2 linked regions of the Homo sapiens genome follow. The protein of the gene in region 1 purifies or fractionates together with the protein of each later gene. This does not show direct contact. Each region holds a gene or a part of one and is shown in the gene's direction. Other genes may lie near its edges. The genes, in order: ZCCHC2 and RMND5A.

Evidence for each region.
Region 2: the proteins of ZCCHC2 (region 1) and RMND5A purify together in Homo sapiens (co-immunoprecipitation; one large-scale study listed by IntAct). This does not show direct contact.

Annotation. Positions count from the first base shown.
Region 1 is NC_000018.10:62,574,723-62,579,096, forward strand, and holds the end of ZCCHC2 (zinc finger CCHC domain-containing protein 2), read left to right. Parts: coding exon 1-828; intron 829-1,789; coding exon 1,790-1,857; 3' UTR 1,858-3,857; downstream 3,858-4,374.
Region 2 is NC_000002.12:86,765,291-86,769,109, forward strand, and holds part of RMND5A (E3 ubiquitin-protein transferase RMND5A), read left to right. Parts: intron 1-568; coding exon 569-734; intron 735-3,819.

The DNA of each region.
Region 1 (4,374 bases):
TGGTGCCTCAAATTGAGGGAAACACAGGGACAGTCCCTCAGCCTACCAATGTGAAGGTAGTTCTTCCAGCAGCTGGCCTCTCAGCTGCTCAGCCACCAGCTTCCTACCCCTTACCAGGCTCTCCCCTTGCTGCCGGCGTGTTACCCAGCCAGAACTCCAGTGTGCTCAGCACAGCAGCAACTTCTCCCCAGCCAGCGAGCGCAGGTATCAGCCAGGCCCAGGCAACTGTTCCTCCTGCAGTTCCTACCCACACCCCAGGCCCTGCCCCGAGCCCAAGCCCTGCCTTGACACACAGTACCGCGCAGAGTGACAGCACCTCTTACATCAGTGCTGTGGGGAACACGAACGCTAATGGGACAGTAGTGCCACCGCAGCAGATGGGCTCAGGTCCTTGTGGTTCTTGTGGGCGAAGGTGCAGCTGTGGGACCAATGGAAACCTTCAGCTAAATAGTTACTATTATCCTAATCCAATGCCTGGACCAATGTACCGAGTCCCTTCATTCTTTACTCTGCCATCCATTTGCAATGGCAGCTACCTCAACCAAGCACATCAGAGCAATGGAAACCAACTTCCTTTTTTTCTGCCTCAGACTCCATATGCAAATGGACTGGTACATGACCCAGTCATGGGGAGCCAAGCCAACTATGGCATGCAGCAGATGGCAGGATTTGGGAGATTCTATCCTGTATATCCAGCACCTAACGTAGTTGCCAACACCAGTGGTTCGGGGCCCAAGAAGAATGGGAATGTCTCATGTTACAATTGTGGTGTAAGCGGACACTATGCACAGGACTGTAAGCAGTCGTCCATGGAGGCCAATCAACAAGGTAATCACAATAACTCCCAGAGGACTTGTTTTTGAGTTCACTCATTTCTCCTTCCTTTCCTTATTGATCATGGGATTCTGTTGTAGCAGAAAGATCTGTTTGTGTTTTCGTTTATGGATATTGTTTTCAGTGACAGATCATAAAATGCAACTGGAAAAACAGTGTAGACCCAGGTCACACAGAGCACAAGGAAGTTCAGAGGAATTCAGTTTCCAATTAAGGAATAAACTCTAAAGGCCCTTTTGAAGGAGTGTGATGGGAATTTGCATTCTGTAATGTTAAATCTCTTGCTTGCAGCACTTTTTTTTTTTAAGCTACAATCCTGTTTCATAGAGTAAGCAAAATTTTTAAATATTGAAAACCTAGGAAGTAATTTAGTTATCTGACATTAGGTTTTGAGTAACTATTTAGTATATCTGCATAACCAGCTGCCTCATGCCTGTTTCCCCATGCTACCCTTTTCCTTCCCAGCAAATGTTAAAAAAAAAAAGGTCCAAGATTCTATTGCATTAATACAGGAACAAAATAGTTCAGTACTATTTTGATTTGAGAGTAAAGGAATTTGAACAAAGTTTAATATTACTACCACCAGAAAGAAGAAAATGGTCTTACCTATGTTTGAGTAAGATACCAAATTTTATGTCAACTTCAGGCTGTTATTTTCACTTGCATTTGACCTTTGTCGTTTTGCCAAATCTTACCCAGAAACAAAAAAAGTCTTAAATTGGGAATATATTTACTTGGCATTCTTAAAGAAAGATCAAGTTTGATAGCTTTTAGATTGAATTCAAAGCACAAACTTTACATTGCTTTTTAAAGTGAGCGGATTGGCCATTTGGAGTGGCACTAGAGCTGACGAAGGTGCCTTGTGGAGAGCATGCCCGTGTGATAGCTTGTACGTAGTGGTTTGTGATGACGTTTGCTTGTAAGCGGTGACTTAGTTCTGTCTTTCCCATTTTAGGCACTTACAGACTGAGATACGCACCTCCCCTCCCCCCTTCTAATGATACGTTGGATTCTGCAGACTGAAACGAGTAAAGCTTGCCTACTTAATACACTCAAGTGTGGGGAGTCATGGGGTGTGGAGGGGAGGAAAGGAAAGGTATTTTGTTTCTTTGTCTATACATTTCCTAGATTTCTATGCAGTTGGGATTTTTCATTTCTCTTGTACCAATGTCCAAAACAAGAAAGAATGCAATGCTTTTGAGCCTCTGGTCTCCTGGTTCAACAACAGGCTTATATGTATGATACATGTAATTTAAACCTTCAGACAAACTTAAATGTTGGTGCGTGCTTTTTTTTTTTTTTTTACACTGAATACTTGCTGTGTGCAATGTTTACTGAATCTTTAAAACTGTGTATTTGACCTTTTTTTTACAACACTGGTGACAGTCATATGGTTTTGAAAAAAAAAAGAAATTTTGCTTCTTCCCAGCTTTTCTCACTTTCACCCTAAACGACACTTCCTCCCCAGCCAGCCTCACTCTGTCTCCGGCCCGCAGCAGGAGCAGCCAGCAGTGCATTCACCCCACTTTTGTAAACTGCTCTGCATATAAACCAAGGGCAGAATGTTTCACCCTGATCTTATGGGAGGAATCAAACTCCCAAAATAGTGTGTATATATGTAATAAACAGCGTCACGTAAATACATATATGCAGTGCTTGTTGTCCAAATAGAAATGAAAATAAGTGGAAGAGAGAGGAAGAAGTCAAACCATATGAAACTGAAAAAATATGACGTACGAAATGGACAAAAAGCTTTTTCTGAAACCAACTTTTTACTTCCATCATCCTTTTTTAGCCTGTTGCTTCAGAGAGACACAAAGTGAACACACTGGTGTGAATGTCGCTCTCTGTGTGCTTGTGTTTGTAATGAAAGTCTACAGCCAATTTTACTTGTCTACCACCGTGTTGTGCTCAAAGAGACACTACTTGAGTGAAGATTTCTTCTTTCCCTGTACCAGCTGTTACAGTGTTACGTTGTGTTTAAAATGTGTATGGTTTATTGCAATCTGAACAGAGCTATGGGTTTCTACCATAAGTCAGGTTGTTTGTTCCCTAACCTGTCTCTCATAGCAAAGTCACTTTTATAACAGTTTACCACTATGCTTGATTATAATGTGAAAGGCGGAATTCTGAGTGTGTTAAGATGGTATTAATCATGTCGGTGTCATGTCACTAAGTTTAATGCTGCTGTTTTTAAAAAAAAAAAAAAGTTTTTTTAAAAAGCCAATCTATGTACTAAATTGCTTCCAGGTAATTTTTGATTTCCTAAAGTGCACTGAGGTTATCTGGAAGATTGGGTGTATTTTTTGGTGACTGCTGCATTCATCAGCAATGAACAGTTTCCACTGTATAGTCCTAGGGGTCAGGGGGTGGGGGTTTCATTTTCCATTCCTCAGCACAGAGCAGAAATGATAGATTTTTATTGTTTGGAGTAACGTTGGTATGCAGCAGAGGAACGTAAACATTTGGTCTTGGTTCAGAAGCCTAACAGATTGCTAGACAAGAGAAAAAACTTGAAGAAAAAAGAAGCTTAATTTCATGCTTCATAAGTAGCATTTATATTTATAGCACCAATGTACATTTTGAAACTTTCTTTCAGGGGTGGGAGTTATGGGGAAGGGGTGGGTGTGAAGGGGTAGATGAAAGCTTTAATTTAGAAAGAAAGTTCAAGTAAAGGAAATTATTTTGATTAAATATATTTTATTTGATCTGGGTATTTTTGGACCACATTATTAAATTAATTGTTAAGCTGCAGTTGAGTTGTTCAAGTGAGAGTTTTGATAAGCCACTTATGGGCCGCGTTGTGAATCACTTGCCAGTTGTACTTTATGGAGCTTATTTTATGATTTAAAATACTGTACTGTACATAGGAGGTATGTTACCTTCTCCTTATTTGTATGTTTACCATATACTTTGATATTTGAAATGTTATGTACTGGAAAGGCCACTTATATTTCTAGAACAGATTGGATTTTATGCAACCTTTTTTCCTTGAATTAACAGCAATAAAAAAATGAAAAACAGCTTAAGAATTGTGCCTCATTGTAAATTTTGTAAAAGTGGAGATAGGACATCATACATGGCGATTTTTTTAAAGTTTTATTTAGGTATGTAATTATTTTGGGGTTAAGGATCAATCCATTTCCCTGCAGGGTGGGCAGTGAATCCCAAAGTTATTTACCATCTGGATGCTCCTCAGTTCTTCCCCCAAATAACCTTTTTGTTTTTGAGACGGGGTCTTGCTCTGTCGCCCAGGTTGGAGTGCAGTGGCGGGATCTCAGCTCCCTGCAACCTCTGCCTCCCTGGATTCAAGCGATTCTCCTGCCTCCGCCTCCTGAGTAGCTGGGATTACAGGTATGTACCATGACACCCAGCTAATTTTTGTATTTTTAGTAGAAACGGGGTTTCACCATGTTGGCCAGGCTGGTCTTGAACTCCTGACATCAAGTGATCTGCCTGCCTCTGCCTCCCAAAGTGGTGGGATTACAGGCATGAGCCTCCATGCCCGGCCTCCCAAGTAACTTTATATAGAGGTAATCT
Region 2 (3,819 bases), on another chromosome or scaffold:
TAAACAGTTGTAGTTGATAATCACTTACAGGAAAAGTTCTGACTGGCTCTAGACAAAAACAAAAATATTAAAGCCTCTTAGAAGTCAGAGATGTTGCAGATTTTGGAATTCCATATTAAACTTAGAGGAGATGTGAGAAAGAGCAAGGTGTGCACTTGCTCTTTTCCACCCCCACCTGGCTGTATGCTGCTGCTCTTGCCACAGCAAAGTGTCAGAGAGCCAAGGTGGCAACTGTCAACCCCACGAAACTGTGTAGGAAACATTAACTCTGCAGTCAGAGATAATGTGATGACATAATTGTTACTTCTCTAGGTAATGGTAATTATACTATGCTGTAGAGAAGAATTTAAATTATAAGTTCAGTATTTTCACTGCTTTCCTTTTCTTCCCTTTTCTCTCCATGCTGTTTAATTTAGGATGAAGGAAGAAACCAAGCTTAAGGACCAGAATTTTAAAAGACCTGTTAATACATTATTTTAGGCTGTATCAGTATGGGTGGGGGTATTCTTGCTTTTCGCAGCTTATTACTGCAAGCAAACTAATGCTTTCTTGCTGGTGCTTTTTTTAGACATTCAGGTTTTGATGGGAAGCCTTGTGTACCTGAGACAAGGGATTGAGAACTCACCATATGTTCACCTACTTGATGCAAACCAGTGGGCTGATATCTGTGACATCTTTACACGGGATGCTTGTGCCCTCCTGGGGCTCTCCGTGGAGTCCCCTCTCAGTGTCAGGTATGGAAATTAGCCCTGTCTGTTATTGAAGTATGCACTGCATTATCACCTTCCCTTAACTTGTTTGGTTCTTGATGTTTAAAGCCAAAATAACTTTTGTCTTTCCAAAGAAGAGTGCAATTGGTATTTCAAAAGATATCACAATTGGCAGTGATGCTGTTTTAGAGAAGCAGTTTTGAAAGTGTGGTGTATGAACCTCACAGGATCCTGAGAGCCTTTTCCACTGTATTGACATTAGTACAGATGGTCCAGAAACAGTGGTGGACTAAACTGCTAGAGCCTTAGCACAAGTTGGGGCGGTGGTACAAACTCCACGAATAGCTGGATTCCTCACCACCACACACTTGCAGTTTAAGAAATGCTAGTTTTACTTAACCACGTCTGTAATCTCAGCATTTTAGGAGGCCTAGGAGGGTGGATCACGAGATCAGGAGTTTGAGACCAGCCTGGCCAACATAGTGAAACCCGCCTCTACTAAAAACACAAAAAATTAGCTGGACGTGGTGGCGGGTACCTTTAATCCCAGCTAGTCGGGAAGCCGAGGCAGAAGAATCGCTTGAACCCAGGAGGCGGAGGTTGCTGTGAGCCAAGATTGCACCATTGCACTCCAGCCCGTGCAACAATGCGAGACTGTCTCAAAAAAAAAAAAAAAAAAAAAGAAAAGAAAAAAAGAATATTCTTGGCCTGGTGTGGTGGCTCACATCTGTAATTCCAGCACTTTGGGAGGCTGAGGTGGGGGGAATCTCTTGAGGCCAGGAATTCAAGACCCACCCGGGTAACACAGCTAGACTCCATTTCTACAGAAAACTTTTTTAAAAAAGGATGTTCTTGGTGAAACATTAAAATTATTAGTTTTATTAAATCTTGACCTTTCAGTACACATCATCTTAATAATTTGTATGACAAAATAGGAAATCCACATAAAGCACTTCAGTTTCATGTCAAAGTATGGTAATTGTCTTGAGAAAAAGTATGTTGTTTTGAGTTATGAGCTAGCTGGTCACTTTTTTTCATGGAATACTTGTTTTGTTTGTTACTTGTTTTTTTCTTGCTTTTTTGAGATGGAGTCTCCCTCTGTCCCCTGGCTGGAGTGTAGTGGCGCAATCTCAGCTCACTGCAGCCTCCACCTCTTGGGTTCAAGCGATTCTCCTGCCTCAGCCTCTGGAGTAGCTGGGATTACAGGCGCCTGCCACCACGCCCAGCTAATTTTTGTATTTTTAGTAGAGACAAGGTTTCATCATGTTGGCCATGCTGGTCTCGAATTCCTGACCTCAGGCGATCCACTGCCTTGGCCTCCCAAGGTGCTGGGTTTATAGGCGTGAGCCACCGCACCAGCCTTGGAATAGTTTTTACTTGGAAGAATCATTAACATAGTTACGCACACTCAGGTTTTTGGCAGTCTTTTTTTTTTTTTTTTTTTTTGTCTTTTTTCTTAAATTTTTAAGACATTCTTGCTATGTTGTTCAGGTTGGACTCAAACTCCTGGGCTCAAGTGATTCTCCTGCCTCAGGCTCCTGAGTAGCTGGGAGTACAGTTGTGTGCCACATCACCCAGCCATTTTTTTAAGTGAACGAAGCAAGCCTGTCACATTTGAAAGGTCTTAATTAAGTATGATTTTACAAAAGCATGCATGAGTAAAAGAGTCATTCAAAGTACAAGACAGACAAATGGATTTTAATGTAGCAGGGTACAAAAAGTTTAATGGTAAAGTTTCAGATTCTGCTCTGCAGCGAACCTTTAGAAAACTACTACCTGTTTTGGCCAAAACTATGAAAAGTCAGTTTTCGTGTGGTATTAAGGAGGAGTATCCACAATGATCCAAAGTGATCAAAGTAGTACTACACATATGTGTGAAACAAGGTTTTTTTTCATTTACCTCAACCAGAAGAACGTATCACAATAGATTTAATGCAGAGTAAACTATAAGAATCCAGCTGTCTTTCTGTTAAGGTAGGCATTCAGGAGAGTTGTGAGAGTTTGGAACAGTGCCACTCTTCTCACACATATATTTTTGTTTTGGAAACTGTAGTTATTTTTTTATAAGAATGTTTGCAATAATGGCATGGTATTTTATTTTTACATGAACTAATCGGCACCTTTTATGTTTCTCATTTTAATTTCTAATGTATTAAAGATATAATCCACAAAAAGAAAAGCTCTTTGAGATCCTTAATACTTAAGCATATAAAGGGGTCCTGAAACCAAAACATTTTAAGAAACTGTTGTAAGAAAATAACTCTTTTTTAGCTCTTCTATTCATTTAATTCCACAAATGTTTTGCATACCTGCTATGTGCCAGGCACTGTGGGCACTGTGTTGGATATGAAGATGAATAAGGTGCATTCCACAGGGTGCTCCATCCTAGCGTAGGAGTGGACAGATGCAATTAGCTATAATGTGAGGCGCTGATGCCATCAAGTTCTCTGAGGAAGACTCTAAAGTGGGAATGTACATGCAGAAAGTTTACTGACATCAGCACCTGTGGGAGAATGAAAACAGCAGGATTGGGCAGAGAGGAAAGTTGGACTGTATTAGAGTGGCAACAAGGTGTCTCCCATCCGTGAGGAGCTCTGGAGCTGCTGTGGGCCCGTGGAGTTGTCCCAAATTGGGCCTATAGGGCTGGGGTTTTGTACCCTCACATGGAGCAATTGCTGGATGTGACTCTGGTCAGATGACTCTCTTCAACTGAGGACAGTCCTGAAGAGACGGACACAGCTGAGAGTTGGCTGCCAACACTTCCAGATCTGAGAAATGAGTGCTTCCACCCTGGACAGGGGTGATCTGGGGATAAGAGGAACTATGCAAAAAAAATGTTTCAGGAGCAAGCATGTCATTTGACTGATAAGCTGAGCCCATTAAATCCAGTTGTTTTGTGCAATATAAAACCTTTTTTGGCACTAATGTAAGATTATTATGAAATTCTTTATATTTTACTTTTTGAAACAGGGTCTCATTCTGTTGCCCAGGTTGGAGTGCAGTGGCACGATCGTGGCTCACTGCAGCCTCAACCTCCTGGCATCCTCCCACCTCAGCCTGCTCAGTAGCTGGGACTCTAGGCACATGCTACCATACCTGGCTAATGGCT